Linked DNA regions of Homo sapiens. The protein of the gene in region 4 interacts with the protein of the main gene of each other region in a biochemical or structural test. Each region holds a gene or a part of one and is shown on either strand. Other genes may lie near its edges.

Region 1 (3,500 bases), on a different chromosome or scaffold from region 4:
ATGTGCATTGAAGAGGTCTTCTGCAGCCTTCCCAGAGAATCCATCCATTATCCCATCAAAGTGAGGCTCTTCGCTCCCAATTTTTAGAAGGGTGACATCACTCATCTTTCCTAGGGGGCTCTGGGAATTTAATAAGACTTCAAGATGCTCATCACTGTCGGTGGCATAGGGATCAAAGGGGATCTGGCTGCCTGAAGAGGCTTGTTCAAAGGAAGCCGAGGGCTTGGTGAGGACAGCAGTTGGACTTCGGGAAGATCTGGGTATCTTTGGGACTTTTTGAAGACATGAGTGATCCTCTCTAGCGTCTGCTGGCATTTCTGTGGGCAATACACGATGTGACTTGTTAAATCACTTCAAATTGAGCATGCCACACAATATGAGTGAGTTACACTTAGATACAGAAGATGGCCACGCTTCCCTGGTCACCGCTCACCACCCAGTCTCATCTCTAAGCTGCTCTATCAATCTCCAATTCATCTTCCCTCTGGTTTTTCCCAAACCCTTTCCTCTTGGGAATTCCACTCTGTGATTATTAAACTCTCTTCTCTGAAGGTTCCTGGCCTACTCCTCTGACCCCTGGTAGTCCCTTGAGGACACTGAGTCCATCCCAACACCATCAGTGAGGGCCTGAAGATGAGGGACCAGGCGCCATGCCATTGCCACTTTCTGATTGCTACTCCCCCCGCTTCTGATGACAACTCAGCAGTTTTGGGTTTTGAGGGTGACAGCAATGCCTCACCCCTAGCCTCCTGGTCACTCCCCCTCATCTACTGAAAACTCTGCTTCCTACTCCATTGCCTTTTCCCCACTTGAACCCTTCTCATTCTGTAACCTGAGCATCCTTGGAAATCACAGTGTTCATGCTGGCCTCTGAGCTCCCGACTTCCTCCTCAACTCCAGTGATTCCCCCACTGCCACTCTGTCAGACACACCTTGGATTGTGTCATCTCCAAATACTGCATCCCTCTGAAAGCTCACTTTCAAGCTATATTTTCTATTCTCTGTCCATCCTCTCCCAACCCTCCAAGCCACTTATTATGTACCTTGTAACAATAATTTCCCAACCATTTACAGTCACACTAATCCATAGACTCTACTATGTTATCACTGTCCACCAGCCCCTCTGGTCTTCACTTCTTTCCTTGTCTAGCCTGTATTTTTGGCAGAACCCCACACCTGGAGGAACCTGATCATCTGCCTTCGCTGAGCATGCTCTGGATCAGCAGAACATTGCAAGAGAAAAATTAAACAACTAAGCTGACTTGGTTTCACTTTAGATTTCTGAGGTCAGACCTACAACTGGCATTTAAGACTGCAAAACAACCCAGCTGTGTTTCTCCAGAAAACTCAGTTCATTCATGATTAAGTCATAACTGCTCTTCTTCCCCTGAATCTTCCACACTCCCCTTCTGCATCCTCACGCTTTTCTGGCCTTGCCACATATTTCATTAAAAATATACAAGGGCAGGCTGGGCGTGGTGGCTCACGCCTTTAATCCCAGCACTTTGGGAGGCCTAGGTGGGCAGATCACGAGGTCAAGAGATTGAGACCATCCTGGCCAACATGGTGAAACCCCGTCTCTACTAAACATACAAAAAATTAGCTGGGCGTGGTGGCACGCGCCTGTAGTCCCAGCTACTTGGGAGGCTGAGGCAGGAGAATCGCTTGATCCCAGGAGGCGGAGGTCGCAGTGACCCAAGATCCCGCCACTGCACTCCAGCCTGGCGACAGAGTGAGACTCCGTCTCAAAAATGTGTGTGTGTGTGTGTGTGTGTGTGTGTGTGTGTGTGTGTGTGTGTATGGGCATCTGATATGAACTCTTCTCATCTTTCCATTACAGAACTCATTTACATACATATGTTTGTACCCATCTCTTCCTTCTTCCCTCTTGCTACAATGGAGGAAAGGTCTGTTCACTTGCTTGTTGTCTGTCTCCCTTACCAGACTGTAAACTCCATAGGAATCAGGATCTTGTCTGATCATAGCACGGAGACTATGACAACGCCTGGCTACCCCTTCTCTGAGTCCTTTGCTACCTCCGTCTCTGAAATTTTAAATGTTTTTGGCTTAAGGATTCCTCCCTGAGTGCTTTTATTTTGATCTACACATGCTCCTTAGGTCATCTTATTCATTTGTGTGGTTTAAAATTCTAGGTACACACTCCATAATTTTTTAAGTAAATAAATGAACAAATTAAAAGGTGACAAAAAGAACATGCTGATTATGTTTTATTGCTAGCATGTATAACATTTAAGCATGAATGAACCATCCAGTGGAAGGTTGCTAATTGAATTTCACTTTGAGTAGGTAGCACAAAATGTTCATTATCTGCTTTTTTCTTTTATTATAATTGAGAAGGTAGGGGCATTGAGATTAGAACATAGAAAGAAGAAGTGCAGCAAGAGAAAACACTTAAGGAAACAAGGATTAGGCTGAAACATGAAAACTATTAAAATGATTGCTGAAAAATGCTCCTAGGACAAAGGCAGTGAGGAATCATCCACTAAGCCTTCTTTTATCAGCTCTAAAAATGTGCGAGAAGCTCAAAGGAAATGGCTCTCCCTGAGGACTACCTGGTACATCCAACTCACAGTGTGCATCTGATCTTGGTACCGAGAGTTCATTCCTTAGAGTTCATGTGGGCTCAGAATGTCCTAATGGACAGGACACAGGCAGTCTTACCTCCGCTTTCAATAAGCACGTCCAGGAGTTCATCCATCTGCTGACTCCGGGTCATTTGCTATTACAAATTAACCAAAGGAGGACAGACAATTTAGAAGGTGGTTATCTCCGTAGGAAATCATTAGAAGCAGCACTGCAAGATTTTGAACTAGGTTTGGTCAAGGTATTTTTTTTTCCAATTGTGGCAAAATACACATAACTTTAAATTTACTATCAACCATTTTTAAGTGTACAGTTAAGGGGCATTAAGTACATTCACACAATTGTGTGACCATCACCACCATCTGTCTTCAGAATTCTTTTCATCCTGCAAGACTAAAATCGTGTACCCATTCAACCATAATTTCCCACACCCCATCCTTTAGCCCCTGGCAACCGCCATTTTCCTTTCTGCCTTTACGAATTTGACTATTCTATCTAAGTCCCTCATAGAAGCGAATCGTACAGTATTTATTCTTTTGCAACTAGCTTATTTCCCTAAGCGTAATGTCCTTAAGGTTGATCTATGTTGTGACATGTGTCAGAATTTCTTTTTTTTAAAGACTGAATAAAATTCCATTGTATAGATATAACACATGTTGTTTATCCATTCATTTGTCAATGAACATATGGGTTGTTTCTACCTTTGGGCTACAGTGAATAATGCTGCTATGAACATAGGTCTATTGCCTAAAAATTTTTAAACCATGTCTGATTAAGCTTCAGTAGTAATTTTAGGCAGATAATCTACTGAATGAAACAGTCTACTACAACAGGAGAAGGGAAAAAGAAGGCAGAATGCTTTCTAGCACAGGGTACTTTAGAGTCGGTTCAGTTGT
Region 2 (3,500 bases), on a different chromosome or scaffold from region 4:
CAGTGATCTCCAGAGACCAGTTTATTGCTGGGGAAGGAAAGGTCGCAACCTAAAAAAGAGAGGGTGGGTCAACACGGGATATGATCGTGGTAACTGTGAACACTACTGCACTTTGTTTACCAAAGTATGTGGTTCCAACTCAGGATCCCCATTGTACATATGTAAAAAAAAACACTTGACCAAGAAAGACATAAAGAAATTTTTTTTTTTTTCTTGAGACGGAGTCTCGCTCTGTCGCCCAGGCTGGAGTGCAGTGGCACCATCTCGGCTCACTGCAAGCTCCGCCTCCCAGGTTCACACCATTCTCCTGCCTCAGCCTCCAGAGTAGCTGGGACTGCAGGCGCCCGCCATCACGCCTGGCTAATTTTTTGTGTTTTTAGTAGAGACGGGGTTTCACCATGTTAGCCAGGATGGTCTCGATCTTTTGACCTCATGATCTGCCCACCTTGGCCTCCCAAAGTGCTGAGATTACAGGCGTGAGCCACCGCGCCCGGCCCATCCTGAACCTTTCTGAATCCCCACCCTCTCAAAGACACCCATCAATACCTCCAGTTACACACAGCCTCTTAAATGGCAATTTTACAGCCAGGCGCAGTGGCTCATACTTGTAAACCCAGCACTTTGAGAAGCTGAGGTGAATGGATCACGAGGTCAGGAGTTCGAGACCAGCCTGGCCAACACAGTGAAACCCCATATCTACTAAAAATACAAAAATTAGCTGGGCATGGTGGCGGTTGCCTATAATCCCAGCTACTTGGGAGGCTGAGGCAGGAGAATCGCATGAACCCAGGAGGCAGAGGTTGCAGTGAGCTGAGATCGCGCCACTGCACTCCAGCCTTGGCGACAGAGCTAGACTCCAACTGGAAATAAAAAAAAAAAAAAGCAATTTTACAATATGCTTGCATACACAGCTAACCTGATGAGTATTATTAGAACTTTAAAAAAACTCAGGGGGTTGGCTAGGTCCGGTGGCTCACACCGAGGCGGGCAGATCACAAGGTCAGGAGATCGAGACCATCCTGGCTAACACAGTGAAACCCCATCTCTACTAAAAATACAAAAAATTAGCCGGGCGTGGTGGCGGGCGCCTTGTAATCCCAGCTACTCAGGAGGATGAGGCAGGAGAATGGCGAGAACCCGGGAGGAGGAGCTTGCAGTGAGCCGATATGGCGCCACTGCACTCCAGCCTGGGTGACAGAGCAAGACTCTGTCTCAAAAAAAAAAAAAGAAAAAAAAAAACTCAGGGGCTTAAGTAATTCTTCAGTATCTTAATTTAGTCCTTAATTTCTTTTCTGTGTAAACTTAGGTTTCATAAATCAACATAAAATTGAAGCAATGACAGTCACAGAAAAAGTGACTGAGCCAACTGTGATAGGCATTTGTTTTTTTTTTTGTTTTTGTTTGTTTTTTTTTTTTTGAGATGGAGTCTCGCACTGTCGCCCAGGCTGGAGTGCAGTGGCACCATCTCGGCTCACCACAACCTCCACCTCCCAGGTTCAAGCCATTCTCCTGCCTCAGCCTCCTGAGCAGCTGGGACTACAGGCATGCGCCACCATACCCAGCTAATTTTTTGTATTTTTAGTAGAGACGGGGTTTCACCATGCTGGTCTTGAACTCCTGACCTCTTGATCCACCCGCCTCAGCCTCCCAAAGTGTTGGGATTACAGGCTTGAGCCACCGCACCTGGCCTGCGATAGGCATTTGTACACGTATAAGAAACTGCATCTTATATACAGGGATGCATCTATAGCTGAATACAGTAATTCTGACACTTTGGGATTTTTTTTTTCTTTTTTTTTTTTTGAGACGGAGTCTCTTTCTGTGGCCCAGGCTGGAGTGCAGTGGCACGATCTCAGCTCACTGCAACCTCTGCCTCCCGGGTTCAAGCGATTCTCCTGCCTCAGCCTCCTGAGTAGCTGGGATTACAGGCGCACACCACCAGGGCCAGTTAATTTTTGTATTTTTAGTAGAGATGAGGTTTCACAATGTTGGCCAGGATGGTCTCGATCTCTTGACCTCGTGATATGCCCGCCTCGGCTTCTCAAAGTGCTGGGATTACAGGCGTGAGCCACCAGCGCCCGGCCCTGAATACAAAAGCAAGAGGGAAAATCCTCAATACTTGCCCTCTCCTTAAATCAAAAGAACAAAGGCGTTTTAATATCTCATCATTAATCATTACTGCCTATAATAATCTATAAGGATACATAAAGATACTAGAAGACAAAAAAGCGAAGGGTTTGGTCAGGAGACAGTGGCATGCAAACATACTTTTCCTAAACGTTCCACACAGAAAGACACCCTGAATCTGCTTTAGCCTGAGCCTTGCTCCCATCACTGACCTATGGGTGTGTGAATCAGAAGACTCAGTATTGTTAAAATGTCAGCTGTCCTCCAGATTGTTTCATACATTCAATGCAATTCCAGTCAAAATCCCAGAGGGCTTGTAGACACTGACAAGCTGATTCTAAAGTTCACAGAAAAAACGTGTAGAAAAACCAAAGCAATTTTGAAAAAGAATGAAGCTGGAAGACTCATATTACTTAACTGACTTACCATCATGCTATAGTAAACAATACAGTATTGTGGCTGTGTAAGGATGGCCAGACAGAGACAAATGTAAAATCTAAAACTATGAAACTTCCAGTGGAAAAGACAGGCAAAAATCTTAGTGCCGTTGGGTCTTGCATGGACTTCGCAGATAGGATATAAAAAGCACAAACCAGGAAAAAATAATAATAATAAGCTGAGGTTTGTCAAAAGTAAAATGTGGGCCAGGTGCCGTGGCTCACACCTGTAATCCCAGCACTTTGGGAGGCCAAGGGGGGGGCGGATCACAAGGTCAGGAGATCGAGACCATCCTGGCTAACATGGTGAAACCACGTCTCTACCAAAACTACAAAAAATTAGCTGGGCGTGATGGCGGGCGCCTGTAGTCCCAGCTACTCAGGAGGCTGAGGCAGAAGAATGGCGTGAACCCAGGAGGTGGAGCTTGCAGTGAGCCAAGATGGTGCCACTGCACTCCAGCCTGGGCAACAGAGCAAGACTCCGACTCAAAAAAAGAAAAAAAAAGTCAATTCTGGGCCAGGCGTGGTGGCTCACACCTGTAATCTCAGCACGTTGGGAGGCCGAGGCGGGCGGATCACAAGGTCAGGAGTTCAAGACCAGCCTGACCAACATGGTGAAACCCAGTCTCTACTAAAAATACAAAACTTAGCCAGGCATGGTGGCGGGCGCCTATAATCCCAGCTACACGGGAGGCTAAGGCAGGAGAATGGTGGGAACCCAGGAAGCGGAGGTTACAGTGAGCCGAGATCACGCCACTGCACTCCAGCCTGGGCGACAGAGCGAGACTCTGGCTCAACAACAACAAAAAAAGTAAGGCTGGGGGCGGTGGTTCACGCCTATAATCCCATCACTTTGGGTGGCCAAGGCGGGCGGATCACTTCAGACCAGGACTTCGAGACCAGCCTGGCCAACAGGATGAGACCCCATCTCGACTA
Region 3 (3,226 bases), 5.8 Mb from region 4:
GGGGCTTCTGCTACCCGGAAGCAGGTGTGGAGCTTGGGATGCAGACAGGGGGCAGGAGATGAGGAGAAAATGATGGTGAAAGCCAGGAAGTGGGTGGGGCCCCAAGGAGTACAGAGGGTGGTCGTGTGGGGTGGGTGGGCAGGCATGGGCCTGGACGGATAGGTTGGGCATGGGAAGCTTAGAACAAACACCTTAGAGCAAACACCATGATCTTTAAATTGGGTTCTGCATGAGAGACACTCGGGCGAAGGAGACGCTTCTAATTCCCACTAAATGTGCAAATGGAATGGGGAAAGAATATTCTAGAAGACACTCCCATGTCGTGGCGGGGCAGGTGCAGGGTGTGAGATGATCTTGGTTCAAGGAGGGGCTTCGACTCCCCTGGTCCCAGGTAGGCACACCCAGCCACCCCTTGCTCTCATGGGTCCAGCCCACTGACCTGGTGGCAGGAAGTCAGCAAGGCTCTCACAGGAAGACCAACACACCCTCACGGCTTGATGTCAATATTCAATTATTAACTTTAATGTGCAAATAAATAGAAAAGGAAAACTACATTCAAAACAGCTGCAAAGGAAGGACAAGCCCCAGAACAGAAATTCCTCAAGAACGGAAAAGAGGCGCTCCCTAGAAGCATGCGGGGATGGGAATACTGGGAGGAGGGGCTCGGCGGGGTCTCCGGCTGCACCCGGGGCCCAGGTGGCTCTGCCCGAGACGGCCGTGGGCCTGGTACAGGAATCTTGATGGCAAGTTCCCTTCTTAGAAAACCAGGATGTGTACAAAGTGCCTGTGTGACACTTGGGGAGCGGGGGTGGGGAGCCCAGGAGGACGGGTCAGCATCGGAATCGCCCAGCCTGGAGTCAAAGGCATCAGGAGCCTCCAGGTTCCACAGGAAACTTCTAGAAACACATCTCCACTTCCTGGAAACTTGAGTCCAGCTGTTGCAGGATGGCAAGGGTGGCGGTTATTCTGGGCCTACTGGTGTGCAGGGGCCAGGGCCAGGGGCTCTCATGGTCGGGGAGAGAGGCCTGGAGAAGTGGTCCCCAGCCCCAGTCACTTGGGATTCTTGGCACAGAAAGCCTTGGATGCCTCCATGGGACAGTCGCCTCAGCCCCTCACAAAAGGACAACAATGATCCCTGGAGTGGCCGCGTGGGTCCCAGGGTGGGTGGGCGGATGGGGCTCCTTGGGTGGCGGCTGGGACTGTCAGGGCGGCTCTCGGAGTTCCACAAAGGGAGATCTCAGCCCCAGGGAGCCGCAGGACTTGGCTGCTACAGAAATAACAACCACTAAAAGCGAAAGGAATAAATATCTGTGCGTGTATACACATACGCCTAGGGTGCCCACTGCAGGAACACGACTGGGCCCGCCGCCCCACAGCAGGGTCGTGCCGGCTCTGAGGGAATACTGGCTGGGGTCCCTCCCCTTGTGGGCCCAGAGTCCAGCTGCTGGAGTTGGGGTTGGGTGTCTTATCCAGAGCGGGGTCTCCCAGGGCACTGCCCGCCTGCTCCAGCTCTGGACTTCAAAATGGGATCCCAAAGGTTTGGCTGAAGGGTTCTTCTCACTTCCAAAGTGACTGAGGGCCTGAACACCAGCCAGGCAGAGCTGATGCCCAAACCCTCAGATGATGTTTCTGGCAGCTCTGAGAATATTCTGGAAGGACTCACTTTTCAAGCAAGCCTACCCAGGGCTCAACTCCTTCCTTGTCAGGGTCTCTTGGACATGGACCCCCTCCAAAGTGTGGGCCTCAGGAGGGCTGTCACCTGTGACTTTTCCAAGACACGGCAAGAATATGGGGCAGGAGCCATCTGCCTGCCAGGGATTTGGCACATGTGACGGACGGGGACGCAAACATGATTGCTTGTTCCTCGGCCAGCACGTCCACCCGCCCCTGTGGTGGGGCTGAGCCCCAGGGCTCGGGTGCAGGTAGCTCAGGTTTGGCACACAGCAGGCCCACAGGAGACCGGGAGCCACGGGGGCGGCGTCCTGCCCTGGAGTGCGCTGTCCGGCAGCAGAGGGGCTGGGAGATGCCTCTCACGTCGTTCAAGAAAACGGCCCCGACACGACCAAGGCCGAGGGCACGTCTGTGCTCTGTGAGGCGCCTGCCCGGTGCCCATGAGGGCGGGTCAGGGCGAGGCCGGGCGGCGGCTGTACTGCACGCGGTAGCGGGTCACGGGCAGGCCGTGCACGTGCACTGTCTCACACAGCGTCTTGCAGGGTACCATGTCCTCGTCCTCCTCACCCATCAGCCAGTCCTGCACCAGGCTAGCCGCCTCCACCGTCACATTGTCCTCCAGCCAGCGGCTGTGCCACTCCTCAAAGTGCTGGTGGTGGCGGAGCAGGACCAGGGGCTGCACCTGTTGAAGAGGCCGGGTGTCAGGGCAGCTGAGGGCTGGACCCCCAGGGCCCCAGGACTTGGGGTGAGGAGGGGCATGTCGGGGCAGCCCAGGCCTCCCCTGGCACCTGCTTGGCCCGGCAGAGGGTCCCGCGACGGTACATGTAGTCCTCGGAGTTCACGATGAACACCATCTTGTGAGTGCTGAGCTTGAAGCGGCAGTCCACGTCGCAGGCGCTCTCCACGCCCACCAGCCGCTTCCAGGAGCTCCTGGCCTCACCGCGCAGGGCCCGCGCCTGCTCGCTCTGCCACCGGCGGCGGAACTTCTTGAGGTTCCTGGGGGCGAAAGGAGGTGGAATGGACTCTGGCTCTCGGCATTGTGGGAGGAGGATTTGCAGGCTGGGAAACCCCCAGGCCTGGGACCATCAGAAGATGTGCTACCTCCCAGGGGTCCACAGAAAGCAAATGGAAGCAACAAGAAATGCCCCCAGATCTGAACACCCACCAGCAGCCCCCACTGGTCCCATAGGTGCCATCCTAGCCCGACCTGAGGTGGTCCAGGGTCCTGCCACAGCCACCCGCCTCTGGCCTGGCCCCACCAGCTCTGGCAGCGTCTCCCTCCAGTCCGGGCATTCACTCTTCACCCACTGACGCATCGTGGGGTTGGCCTTGCCCCTCCTACACCTCACCGTCCTGGGGTTACTAATCCCTCCACTGCAAACCACAAGCCTCAAAAGGGCAGGGCCTGCCTCAGCACACAGCAGGCACCTACTAAGTGCTCCCAGACAGTGTGCCATGGTCCAGCCCCCGTCAGGACAAAGGGGACACTCCCTGGGCCCAGGAAGGAAGGAACAGAGCATGCATCTCAGGGCCTCTTACCTCTGCAGGAACACAG
Region 4 (3,500 bases):
CTGGTGGTCCCGGCACGGCTGCGGTGGATGGGGACCCACACGGCAGCGAAAGGCACACACACGCACACGCACACGCACGCTCCGTGGGACCAGGGCCCTTGCTGGCCGTCTCAGCCGAGAAGCCGAGGATTGAATGGGCATGGAGACTGAACTACCCCTCTCACCTTTAGAGGTGGCTCCTCCAAGTCGGGGTTGACGCCCGCTGGCGGAGGGGCAGTGTGGGCGAAGCTGGCACTGCCGCTGCCCGTGCTGCAGTGTCTGCTCTGTGGATAAATAGAGGACTTCAGTCTCCAGGGCTGTCAATCCGGCGTCTTTCACCAGCAGTTTAGAAAAAAAAACCACTTCAAAGAAAAAGCAAGTACTCATCCTCTTTCCGTTCAGCCCACACTCCCTTTACTCCAAAGGGATGCAAAAAAAATAAGAGTGCAAAAAAGGTAAAAAAACAAAAATGAAAGCCGCTCACGCGTCCACCATTCACGCTGGGGAGGGGTCGGGGCCGGTGCTGGGCTCACCTCATCCTGCTCCTCGTGCTCCAGGATGGCCTGCAGGAAGGCGCGCCGCTCATGGCTGGAGGACTTCTGGTCGAACATGCCGGCCTGGATCACCTTCTGGTCCACGTTGAGCTTGTACTTGGCTGCAGCTAGGATCTTCTCCTCCACGCTGTTGACGGTGCAGAGGCGGAGCACACGCACCTCGTTCTGCTGCCCGATGCGGTGGGCTCGGTCCTGCGCTTGCAGGTCCTGGGGGAAGAGGTGCCAGTCAGTCCCAAAGGAGCCCAGGAGGTCATAAAAGGGAAGGTGGCCTCTGACACTAGCTGGAGAGGTGTGCTGTGCGTGCCACCCTCGGCCTGACAATTCTGCCCAGCCTGACCTGCCGCCGCATGAAAACAGAGCTGGTGGAGCCTGGGCCGCCATGTGTCCCTCGGGGGAAGGGGACTCTCATCACGTTCCTCCAGAAGTGCCACCTTCTACCTTATTGGGACCCCACAGATATTCGGGAAGAAAGCACCAACCCCCCAGGGGATTATATTCTCAAGCAGCTCCCGTGGCAGCGGCACAGCTCCCCACAGCGTGGACCTACACAGTCGAGCACCATTTACAACAGGGGGCCGAAGCTCGGCCGTGTTGTGGCAGTGCTTGGTTTGGCTGTGGGCCCTGCCACTCTCACAGTGCACACAGAACCGGAACCAGGTCTCACCTCTGTGAGCCTCAAAACTCCCTCAGCCTACATGGGGCCCAACCCGTGGCTACTGCATACCTCGAATGAGTGAATAAGCACCAGGAGTGTGGCCCAGTGACTGGTGCAGTTAGCTCCCAACAATGCAGGTGCCGTGGATGGGCTTTTTTTCTTTTTTTTTTTTTTTGAGACAAAGTCTCGCTCTGTCGCCCAGGCTGGAGTGCAGTGGTGCGATCTCAGCTCACTGCAACCTCTGCCTCCCGAAGTTCAAGCGATTTTTCTGCCTCAGCTTCCTGAGTAGCTGGGGCTACAGGCATGCACCACCATGCCTGGCTAATTTTTGTATTTTTAGTAGAGACAGGGTTTCGCCATGTTGGCCAGGCTGGTCTCGAACTCCTGACCTCAGTTGATCCACCCACCTCGGCCTCCCAAAATGTTGGGATTTCGGGTGTGAGCCACTGCGTCCAGCCTGGGTTGTTAGTTTTATCATCACCCCAGCACAGTACGAGGAGGCTAACACGAAATCCTGTCTCTGGGCCCAGGAGCTGCAGGACCAGGGTGAGTACCAGTGATGCTCTGAAACTTAAGACTGGCACCCATGGGGTGGCAGAGGCCACAGCTGGTGGGGACCAGGAGTGCCTTGTGTCTGCCGCTCAGCCCTCCTGCCCTGTCAGCACACTTCCTGGCAGGGCCAGCCCTCCCCAACGCGCCCCCAGCCCTGAGGTGCAGCTTCCGCCTGCTGCCGGCCTGCCAACGGGGACACACAACTCAACCACCTCCTAAGAAACTGGCTGGTCACCAGGGTCTGGGCAGAAGCTACACCCCAGCCTGATCGTAAAAGGGGCCACCAGTGACCACCACGGCATTCACCCATCAGACAAGCGACAATTTACACACTGAGAACGCTGCTGCCCTCACGCTGCAGGGAAGGGCAGGGTACATTCACACCCCAGCGTAGGAGTGAAACCACTTTGGCAGTAGCAACCAGAACACGAAGAGGACAATGTCTGGGGTGGAGCGACCCCATGTCTGAGGGCTGCGCAGACCTAGGGTGTTTGCACAAGCACTCTGAGAGAAAGAGGGACCCTGCTGGGTTGGTGACCAGGCTGATCAACAGAAAAGACGGATGCCTGCCAACCAGAGTTTGAGAGCAGACGTCCAGGGGTGGCCATCTGCCGGGACGCCTGGTGGCCGATTAGATGGCTGGGTAGCTTCCGATGTGCACTCGGCGGTTGACACCCACTGCTTGGTGGAAGAGGCACATGCTAGGCCACGCCGCATCTGTGTTAATCTCAGTACATACATGTGCGAAGGCAGATGGGCTGGCAGAGGCTCAGAAGAGAGCACGGTTGGAGAGGAAGGGAAAAGGGACTCCTGACTGTCACTGGTGTTTACATGTTAAAAACAATAAGAACTTATCAGTCTTATAATGAAACACAGAGAAAAGTTTAACTCATTTTCAAATTCTTGTAGCTATGTAACAGCATGACCTGGTATCCACCGATGCCGAGGCCCATGAGGGGTACATGGTTATGGAACAAGAGGAGGAAGTAAACGAAGTGGCATGGAGTTTACCCCCAATTGTGTCTGAACAAGCGCCAGTGTGTGTGCTCACAGGGCACACTGCAGGGGCCGCCCCACAGTGACGGCGCAGATTGATCAGGATACTTTCCACCTCCTCATGGGTGCCATTCCAAGATTTAAGAAAAACCAAACCGACGGATGGCTTATACACTGCTTTCCCAATCAGAGGGAAAGGCTGTTTGTATTTTGGGAAACAGGAGGACCCCGCCTCTTTTCTCCCTGATGACCTATGGAGATATGGGTGCAGCTCCTCCCGGCTCCTGGGGTCCAAGACAATGTGGAGGAGGCTGGAGGACCCTCAAGCCAGGGCCGTCTCCTCGAGGTTTTGCAGGCACCCCCTTCCTTCTCCTCGACCTGGGGCCCGGCCCGCTTTTACCTGGTGAGGATTCCAGTCGCTGTCAAAAATGATCACAGTGTCTGCCGACTGGAGGTTCAGGCCGAGCCCCCCAGCCCGGGTGCTGAGCAGGAAGATGAAGTACTCAGAGCCGGGCTCGTTGAAGGTTTTCAGCAGCATGCCCCGGTCCTCCGCCTTCGTGGTTCCTGACGGGCACAGAGGAGAACAGGGTCAGCGGGGTGACCTCAGGGGTAGAGTGGGGACACCAAGGAACACCTGCTTCTGAGAGCAGGAGCAGGATCAGCACCTGCCAGCATCCCCAGATCCCTGGCTCCGCACTCTCCACACGGGCCTGTGGGCCACTGGCGAATAACTGGATTTCCAGTGTTTCACCACAAAACGTCTC

What was found. The genes of interacting proteins can lie anywhere in the genome.
Region 1: the proteins of SMARCA4 (region 4) and MYOCD form a complex in vitro, tested with the Homo sapiens proteins (one study listed by BioGRID).
Region 2: of the proteins of SMARCA4 (region 4) and CHFR, one has a biochemical effect on the other in vitro, tested with the Homo sapiens proteins (one study listed by BioGRID).
Region 3: the proteins of SMARCA4 (region 4) and SIN3B form a complex in vitro, tested with the Homo sapiens proteins (one study listed by BioGRID).

What each region holds. Positions count from the first base shown.
Region 1 is NC_000017.11:12,759,890-12,763,389, reverse strand, and holds part of MYOCD (myocardin), read right to left. Parts: intron 3,257-3,500; exon of another isoform or gene 2,741-3,256; coding exon 2,683-2,740; exon of another isoform or gene 318-2,682; coding exon 1-317. UniProt on the Homo sapiens protein: Smooth muscle cells (SM) and cardiac muscle cells-specific transcriptional factor which uses the canonical single or multiple CArG boxes DNA sequence. Acts as a cofactor of serum response factor (SRF) with the potential to modulate SRF-target genes.
Region 2 is NC_000012.12:132,877,606-132,881,105, forward strand, and holds part of CHFR (E3 ubiquitin-protein ligase CHFR), read right to left. Parts: intron 50-3,500; coding exon 1-49. UniProt on the Homo sapiens protein: E3 ubiquitin-protein ligase that functions in the antephase checkpoint by actively delaying passage into mitosis in response to microtubule poisons.
Region 3 is NC_000019.10:16,877,624-16,880,849, reverse strand, and holds the end of SIN3B (paired amphipathic helix protein Sin3b), read right to left. Parts: coding exon 3,211-3,226; intron 2,668-3,210; coding exon 2,460-2,667; intron 2,354-2,459; coding exon 2,123-2,353; 3' UTR 501-2,122; downstream 1-500.
Region 4 is NC_000019.10:11,030,530-11,034,029, reverse strand, and holds part of SMARCA4 (SWI/SNF-related matrix-associated actin-dependent regulator of chromatin subfamily A member 4), read right to left. Parts: intron 3,301-3,500; coding exon 3,137-3,300; intron 741-3,136; coding exon 513-740; intron 264-512; coding exon 165-263; intron 1-164. UniProt on the Homo sapiens protein: ATPase involved in transcriptional activation and repression of select genes by chromatin remodeling (alteration of DNA-nucleosome topology).